Linked DNA regions of Homo sapiens. The protein of the gene in region 2 interacts with the protein of the main gene of each other region in a pairwise test. Each region holds a gene or a part of one and is shown on either strand. Other genes may lie near its edges.

Evidence for each region. Proteins that work in one complex are often made in the same cells at the same time.
Region 1: the proteins of KATNBL1 (region 2) and PFKFB1 interact in binary tests that used the Homo sapiens proteins (3 or more experiments, as listed by UniProt).

Annotation. Positions count from the first base shown.
Region 1 is NC_000023.11:54,952,589-54,956,339, reverse strand, and holds part of PFKFB1 (6-phosphofructo-2-kinase/fructose-2,6-bisphosphatase 1), read left to right. Parts: intron 1-65; coding exon 66-187; intron 188-3,751. UniProt on the Homo sapiens protein: Synthesis and degradation of fructose 2,6-bisphosphate.
Region 2 is NC_000015.10:34,147,460-34,151,210, reverse strand, and holds part of KATNBL1 (KATNB1-like protein 1), read left to right. Parts: intron 1-2,460; coding exon 2,461-2,579; intron 2,580-3,751.

The sequences.
Region 1 (3,751 bases), on a different chromosome or scaffold from region 2:
ACTTCCAAAGAAAACCATCTGTCTCCCAATGTCTCCCTTGATACCTCTGTTCTCCCTGCTCCCAGCAAGTGAAACTTGGCAGCCCTGATTATATAGACTGTGACCGGGAAAAGGTTCTGGAAGACTTTCTAAAGAGAATTGAGTGCTATGAGGTCAACTACCAACCCTTGGATGAGGAACTGGACAGGTAAGAGCCAGCACCCCAAAGTCAAGGTCTAGATCTTTCACCCAGTTTTGATATCCTGTAGAACCTAGAGTAAATATCCTCCCTTGCTGGGCCTCAACTTCTCTATCTGTAATATCAGGAAACTGAACTTGATGATCTTTCTTCAAGGATCCTTTCAGCTCTGATTCCTTGATGTGTAAGGTGTTCCTAAGATGACTAAAATAGTGCTTTCCTGAGCAATATGAACAGTTCAGGACCCTGGGAACAAATGCCCCCCTCCTGTGGGTGTTGCGATTATTATTACAAAAGTGTTCTTCACACGTGAATGACACTTCAGTTTCCAAACATGTATACCTTCTTTCTTACATTTAATCCTCTAGGACTCCTGTAAAGGAGGCTGAGATAAGTCTTATGGTCATAAAATTTCAAGAAAAAGAAATTGAGTCTTAGAGAGTTGAAATTACTTTCCCAAGCTCCCACCACAAGGGGTAGAGCTAGGATTCTAATTACATGTTCTGTCTCCTAGTCATGTCTCTTTTCACAACACTCCCATGTCTCATCAATCAACAAGTATTTGGACCCTTTGGGCTGTGGTATATGTAGGGGGTATAAATAGGGGCAAAAGAGGTGGGTTCTATCCTCGGGTAGCTTCTATAGTGCTTTGACATATGAGAAGACCCATAAAAAAAAACAAGAAATGTTCTGTCATCATACCAACTAAAGATAGGAGAGAGCAGATGTGAGTTTTAGATATAGAATGTTCCCAGAACCCTACTCTCTTTGAAAATGTATTATGATGAGAAGAGACCCCAAGTGAGAAGTATAAAGAGGCTTCAAATGGTCATCACCACTCTAAGAAATCTAAAGAGTGGCCTTACCCAACTGAAGTACCAAGAAATGAGCACTGTTACTGCCCCACTCTTTAGATGGAGGAACTGAGACCCAGATCAAGTCAAAGTCTTACCTTGGGCTACACAATGAATGAGTCAGTAGCACAATATATACTCGAACCCATATCCCAGTTGTGCAGATTGTTCATTGTACAGGCACCCTGGTCAAGGGTACACTCGCTTCTCTCACCAAGATGTGTGCTGAAGTAGGGCTGTGTGACCCTGAGGAAAGTACGGCTTTTTAAAATTATCACAAAGGCACAATATGGGCTAACAGCATATGGTGAAAGGAGCCTGAAGGCCGGGGTGAAGGATGTAAGTGAAAGAACGGCATTGACAAAGCCCCAGCCCTGGGCCTAGACCCTGCAGTTGCTAGGTTGCTGTTTGATGAATTAGTTTGGGCCAGAAGAAGACAGATCTAGAAGGTCAGCTTTATGTCATCATTTCTCCATCAACAGACATTTACAGTCTATGCATCAGGTCCCAGCCCTGAACGTGGAATCAAAAGAGGAAAGGGCTGTCCCTGATTTGACAGAATGTCCAGTTAGTTGGAGAAGACAATGAGTACACAGTTGGTCACAACTCTGGTGACAGTAAACCAACTGGGCTGTAGGAACATAGGACCCAGTCCAGCTTAGAGGAAGAAGGTCTAAACGAGCTGGATTACCCAATAGGCAGACTACACTGAGGTTACCAGCAAGATAAGGGCTACCAAACTAAGAAAAAAAACTATCTTAAAAACTTTTATTTATTTATTTATTTTTAATTTTTGAGACAGAGTCCCGCTCTGTCACCCAGGCTGGGGTGCAGTTGCGTGATCTCAGCTCACTGCAACCTCTGCCTCCTGGGTTCAAGCAATTCTCCTGTCTCAGCCTCCTGAGTAGCTGGGACTACAGGTGCCCGCCACCGTGCCTGGCTAATTTTTGTATTTTTATTAGAGATAGGGTTTCCCATGTTGGCCAGGCTGTTCTCGAACTCCTGACCTCAAATGATCTGCCCGCCTTGGCCTCCCAAAGTGCTGGGATTACAGGCATGAGCCACCGCACCCAGCTGGCTTAAAGGCTTTTATAATATTGACTATTTCAAAAACAGCATCAAGGTAGTCAAAGTGGAAAAATATAAAACCAGAACTTGGGAGGACCTCCCCATATTCTGTAGTTTATAATTTTTATTTTAAATAAAAATTTAAAAATTTTTTAAAAAATTTTTAAATAAAATTAAAAGTTTGGATGAGGGTAGGCATTAGCTACTCTGCTATTTTTGGTGTGGAACACCTCTAAATGACTTCACATGATCCTGGTCTCAAAAAAGAGAGTGAATATGCCGGCTCTTGAGGTATAAATGCATAGCAGCTCAACTTTGGAAATCGGGCAAAGAGAATAGCACTTTGTAAGTGCCTAGTTAAATCTGAACAAGAGTAGAGAAATACAGAAAATATTCCAAGAGTAATAGCAAAGGTATGAAGACAAGAATGAAACAGAGAAGATATGGGTATGGGCATGGGACCATAAAGTGAGGCCAACTGGGCTCAGTGTGAGAAGGCAAAACCAGAAGATCAGACTAAGCTGAGGAATTTGGAAGCTCCTAGAGCCTCAAAGGACCTAGTGTTAGGAACAGACAGTAGCCAGGCAACAAGTTTACATCAGATATTTTCTATCCCTAGGCTCTGAGGGTTCTAGAAGAAATGATTGGAGAGGGGAGCATTCTGGGGTTCTTCTTCCCGAGAAGGTGGCCTTGGAGAAATCACTTTCTCTCTCTATGCCTCAGTTTCTTCATCTTTGAAACAGAGGTGATAATCTCTGCTCTGTAGCAATATTATGAGGATTCATGCGCTTAAAAGTTCCCACTCCCTGCCAGATGCACAGAAAGTGTTCAACAAATACAAGTGCCCTGTGGAAGCCATTAGGCACAGATGGGCATGATGAGTGTGGTGCAGCCATAAAGGGCTTCTCTAGGAAGAACTAGGGAGAGGCTTTCTGAAACCAAACCTATCAGCAACCTTACCTGCCTGGAGTTAGTGCAGTGCAGCTCTTTCCATTCACTCGGTTTTGTTACCATGCAACCAGGGCTGCTGGTGTCACCCCATTGCCCCAGCCTTCCACTCCTCTTCCCAGGGATTTCTCTGAACTCTGTACAGGCCAACAACTAAAGGATTTAATGCCTGGTACAGCGTAGGCCTCAGAAGTCTTGCTCCATGTTTCTAGTCTTCTGATTAGTCAGTGCCTATACTCCACCCTTCAGCTTCTACACAAACAGGTGGTTGAACAGTTTAAATATCATTCAGTATATAGGTATTAGTTCATGACAGAGCACAGAATTGAGGATACAGTAAGGAACTTGGGACAAGGACCACAAGTTCCCCAATAATGTTGTGGACCACCTCTGTATCCCCATGCCCCACTGCTTGGCACACCTTAGAGGGAGTGACTATTTATGGAATGAATGTTGAGCACTGATCATGTGTTTCCAAGTATTTGTTCCTGACTGGCCAGAGAGCTCCCAAAGCACAGACAGTGGGTCTCCATGCCAAGCACAATGCCTAGAACAGAGGAGTATGTTTGGAGTATGTTTGTTGACTGCATAGCAAATAGGAAAATAACCCAGGCCAACCCCACTTCTGAGTGAGGAGAGAAACACACACATGCACAGACACACATATGCACACAGAGGCAATCTGGTAGCTGTGTGTAGAGTA
Region 2 (3,751 bases):
AATGCTGGTGACAATGTAATTTAGTTTCAGCCATTGTGAAAGCAGTGCGACAATTTTTCAAAGAACTTAAAACAATCTTATTATTGGATATATACCCAAAGGAATATAAAACATGCTACCATAAAGACACATGTATGCGTATGTTCATCACAGCACTGTTCACAATAGCAAAGACAAGGAATCAATCGAAATGCCCATCAATGGTAAACTGGATAAAGAAAATATGGTGCATATACACCATGGAATACTATATGCAGCCATAAAAAGAACAAGATCATGTCATTTGCAATCACGAGTGAACCTGGAGGCCATTATCCTAAGCGAACTAATACAGGAACAGAAAACCAAATGCTTCATGTTCTCAGTTGGAGTGGGAGCTAAACACTGTGCTAGTGCATATGGACACAAAGATGGGAACAACAGACATGAGGCCTACCTTAGGGTAGAGGGTGAGAAGAGAGTTAGGATCAAAAAACTACTTATCAGTTACTATGCTTATTACCTGTGTGATGAAATAATCTGTACACCAAACCCCCACAACATGCAAACTACCTATATAACAAACCTGCACATGTGCCCCTGAACATAAAATAAGTTTGTTTTGTTTTGTGTTTTGAAACAGGGTCTCTCGCTCTATCACCCAGGCTGGGGTGCAGTGGTGCAATCTTGGCTCACTGCAACCTTCACCTCCCAGGTTCAAGCAATCCTCCCACCTCAGTCTCCAGAGTAACTGGGACTACAGGCATGTGCCACCACACCCAGCTGATTTTTGTATTTCCTATAGCGACAGGGTTTTGCCATGCTCCCCAGGTTGGTCTCGAACTACTGAGCTGAAGCGATCAACCTGCCTCAGCCCCAGCCCAAAGTGCTGGGATTACAGGTGTGAGCCACTGTGCCTGGCCAGAATAAAAGTTCTTTTTAAAAAGTTTCAGTTGTGCATTTTAAAAACTACCCCAGTGAGACATCTTTCTCAAGAACCTCTTTTTACTTTACATTCTCATTTTCACTACTTTTCACTAAACCTTACATTTAACTAATAGGTTTAATGATTATTCTTGTTTCATACCTGTTTTCTTGATTGACCAGTACCTGCTCTAAAAACCTAAATCTGAAAGTGATACCATAACATCTTAGCCAAGTTAAAATACATATAACCATTGACCTAGCTGTTCCAATTGTAAAATTAATTTTAACAAAAGTGTCTGTACAAGTGCACATATTTACATATATCAGGATGTCCACTCATCAGTTTTGATAGGTAAAAACCAGAATCTAAATAAATTATGGTATGTAAAGACTAGAGAATATGCTATTGTTTTTTGTTGTTGTTTTTAAGAGATGAGGTCTCACTGTCTCACTGTCTTTCCCAGGCTGGACTCAAACTCCTGAGCTCAAGTGGTTCTCCCACCTCAGGTTCCCAAGTAGCTGGGACTGTAGGCACACAGCACTATGCCAGGCTATGCTGTTGTTCTTTAAAAGTAAAGTTGGGCTTGGTGTGGCGGCTCATGCCTGTAATCCCAGCACTTGGGAGGCCAAGGCAGGCGGATCATGTGAGGTCAGGAGTTGGAGACCAGCTTGGCCAACATGGCAAAACCCCATCTCTACTAAAAATAGGAAAATTAGTTGGGTGTTGTGTTGGGTGCCTGTAATCCCAGCTACTCGGGGAGGGTGAGGCAGGAGAATTACTTGAGCTTGGGAGGCGGAGGTTGCAGTGAGCTGAGATTGCACCACTGCACTCCAGCCTAGGCAACAGAGCAAGACCCTGTCTCCAAAAAAAAAAAAGCTTGATCTGTGTTTTGACATTGAAAAATGTTCATATAGGTAAAAAAGCAAGGTTTTGAACAATATAGGTAATTAATTTTTCAGAGTGTTTATATGTGTACTTAATTTGTCTTTGTCTAGAAAATGGTCTGGAAAGATACATATCAGTCTGTTAACTGTGATTATTTCTGCGGAGTGATATTGGATGTTTTTGTGGGCAGGCAGAGAGTTTTTACTTTTTATCTTACATAGTTCTGTGTTAAACACATTAGAACAGGAAAATGACACTTCATTACTTAACAATAAATAGATAAATTTAAATGATACTACAACACTTGTCAAAAACTGAGTTTTTGTGATTCTCCTGCCATTCAGTTGGTAATGACTAGCCTACATGTTTACATTTTTCTTTTATCCATGTTATAAATTAAGTCCTAGTTTATAGGTCAGCTAAAAATAATTTTATAAATTATTGGGTTTTAAAAGAAAAATGGTAGCTAGTGAAAAGTATAAATGGGTCTTAAATTTGTTCAGATCATTTGTTTACTGTGGTCAACTGCAGTATTCCTTTTTGTGGGCTAGTAAAAGGAGTTACTTTTGCATGATTTTTAACTATGTCTACCAGAACGATTTAATAAAAAAATAGTTTCATACCCTGTTTCAGTGTGCTTTTTAACAAATCAGATTATTGCCTTTCAGGTTTCTCAGGACCATGAAACAATGGCCCAAGTTTTGTTCAGCAGGAATATGAGATTGAATGTAGCTTTAACTTTCTGGAGAAAGAGAAGTATAAGTGAACTTGTAGCTTATTTGTTGAGGTAAGTGTGACCTTTTATCCTCTTTGTTCAATCACTTTTTTTCTGAGACAAGTTCTTGCTTTGTCATCCAAGTTGGAGTACAGTGGCACAATCATGGCTCACTGCAGCCTCAACCTGCTGAGTTCAAGCAGCCCTCCCACCTCAGCCTCCTGAGTAGCTGAGAGTACAGGTGCACATCACCACACCTGGCTATTTTTTAAAAAAATTTTTTGGAAGACATGAGGTCTTATGTTTCCCGGGCTGGTCTCGAACTCCTGAGCTCAGGTGAACCTTCTTCATTATTCTAAACTGCCTATATGTAGCTTCAGTAGAGACAGTATGGCTTAAATTACATTCCTCACCCATCTAAGAGTAACCAAAATACAGAAAACAATGTTTTATCAGATTGAACAAAGCTGTTACCTTTCCTGACTGTCATTCTTACCTATAAAACTAAGAGATAACGATATGGGAAAACTAACCTTCTAAAAATCCCTTTTGAGGCCAGGTGTGGCAGTTCTTGCCTATAATCCCAGCATTTGGGAAGGTTGAGGTGAGAGAGTCCCTTGAGCCCAGGAGTGAGAGACTGAGCAACATAGCAAGACTCCATCTCTACAAAAAATAAAAATAATAAGCCAGGCACAGTGGTACGTGCTTGTGGTCCCAGATACTTGGGAAGATCACTTTGAACCCAGGAGTTGGAGGTTGCAGTAAGCTGTGATTATGCAACTACATTCCAGCCTGGGCAACCGAATGAGACCCGTTTCTTAAAAAAAAAATTACTAAAAATAAAAAGTAAACATCCCTTTTGAGTGGGAATTTGAAGCATTACTTTCCTCATTGTATTCAAGTCTCTCAGATGTTACCTTAGGGAAGCCTTCTTTGACCAACTTATTTTAAAATACCTATTTCTCCACTCCCTATCTCGCTTTCCTGTTTTATTTTTCTCCATAGCACTTATATCAACCTGCTCTATATGTCTTATGTCTTGTTATTTGTTTATTGCCTGTCTCTGTCCCACCCCCCAACCCCCACAGTTGCTCACACACTGGAATACAAGCCCTGTGTCTTTGTTCATTGCTGTATCCACAGACATGACTCATTGTAGATACTGACATTGTTAAATGAATGAATTTCTCAAAAGCGGTGTGAATAATCATAATATGAAAGTAAATAAGGAAATCAGCTCTCTA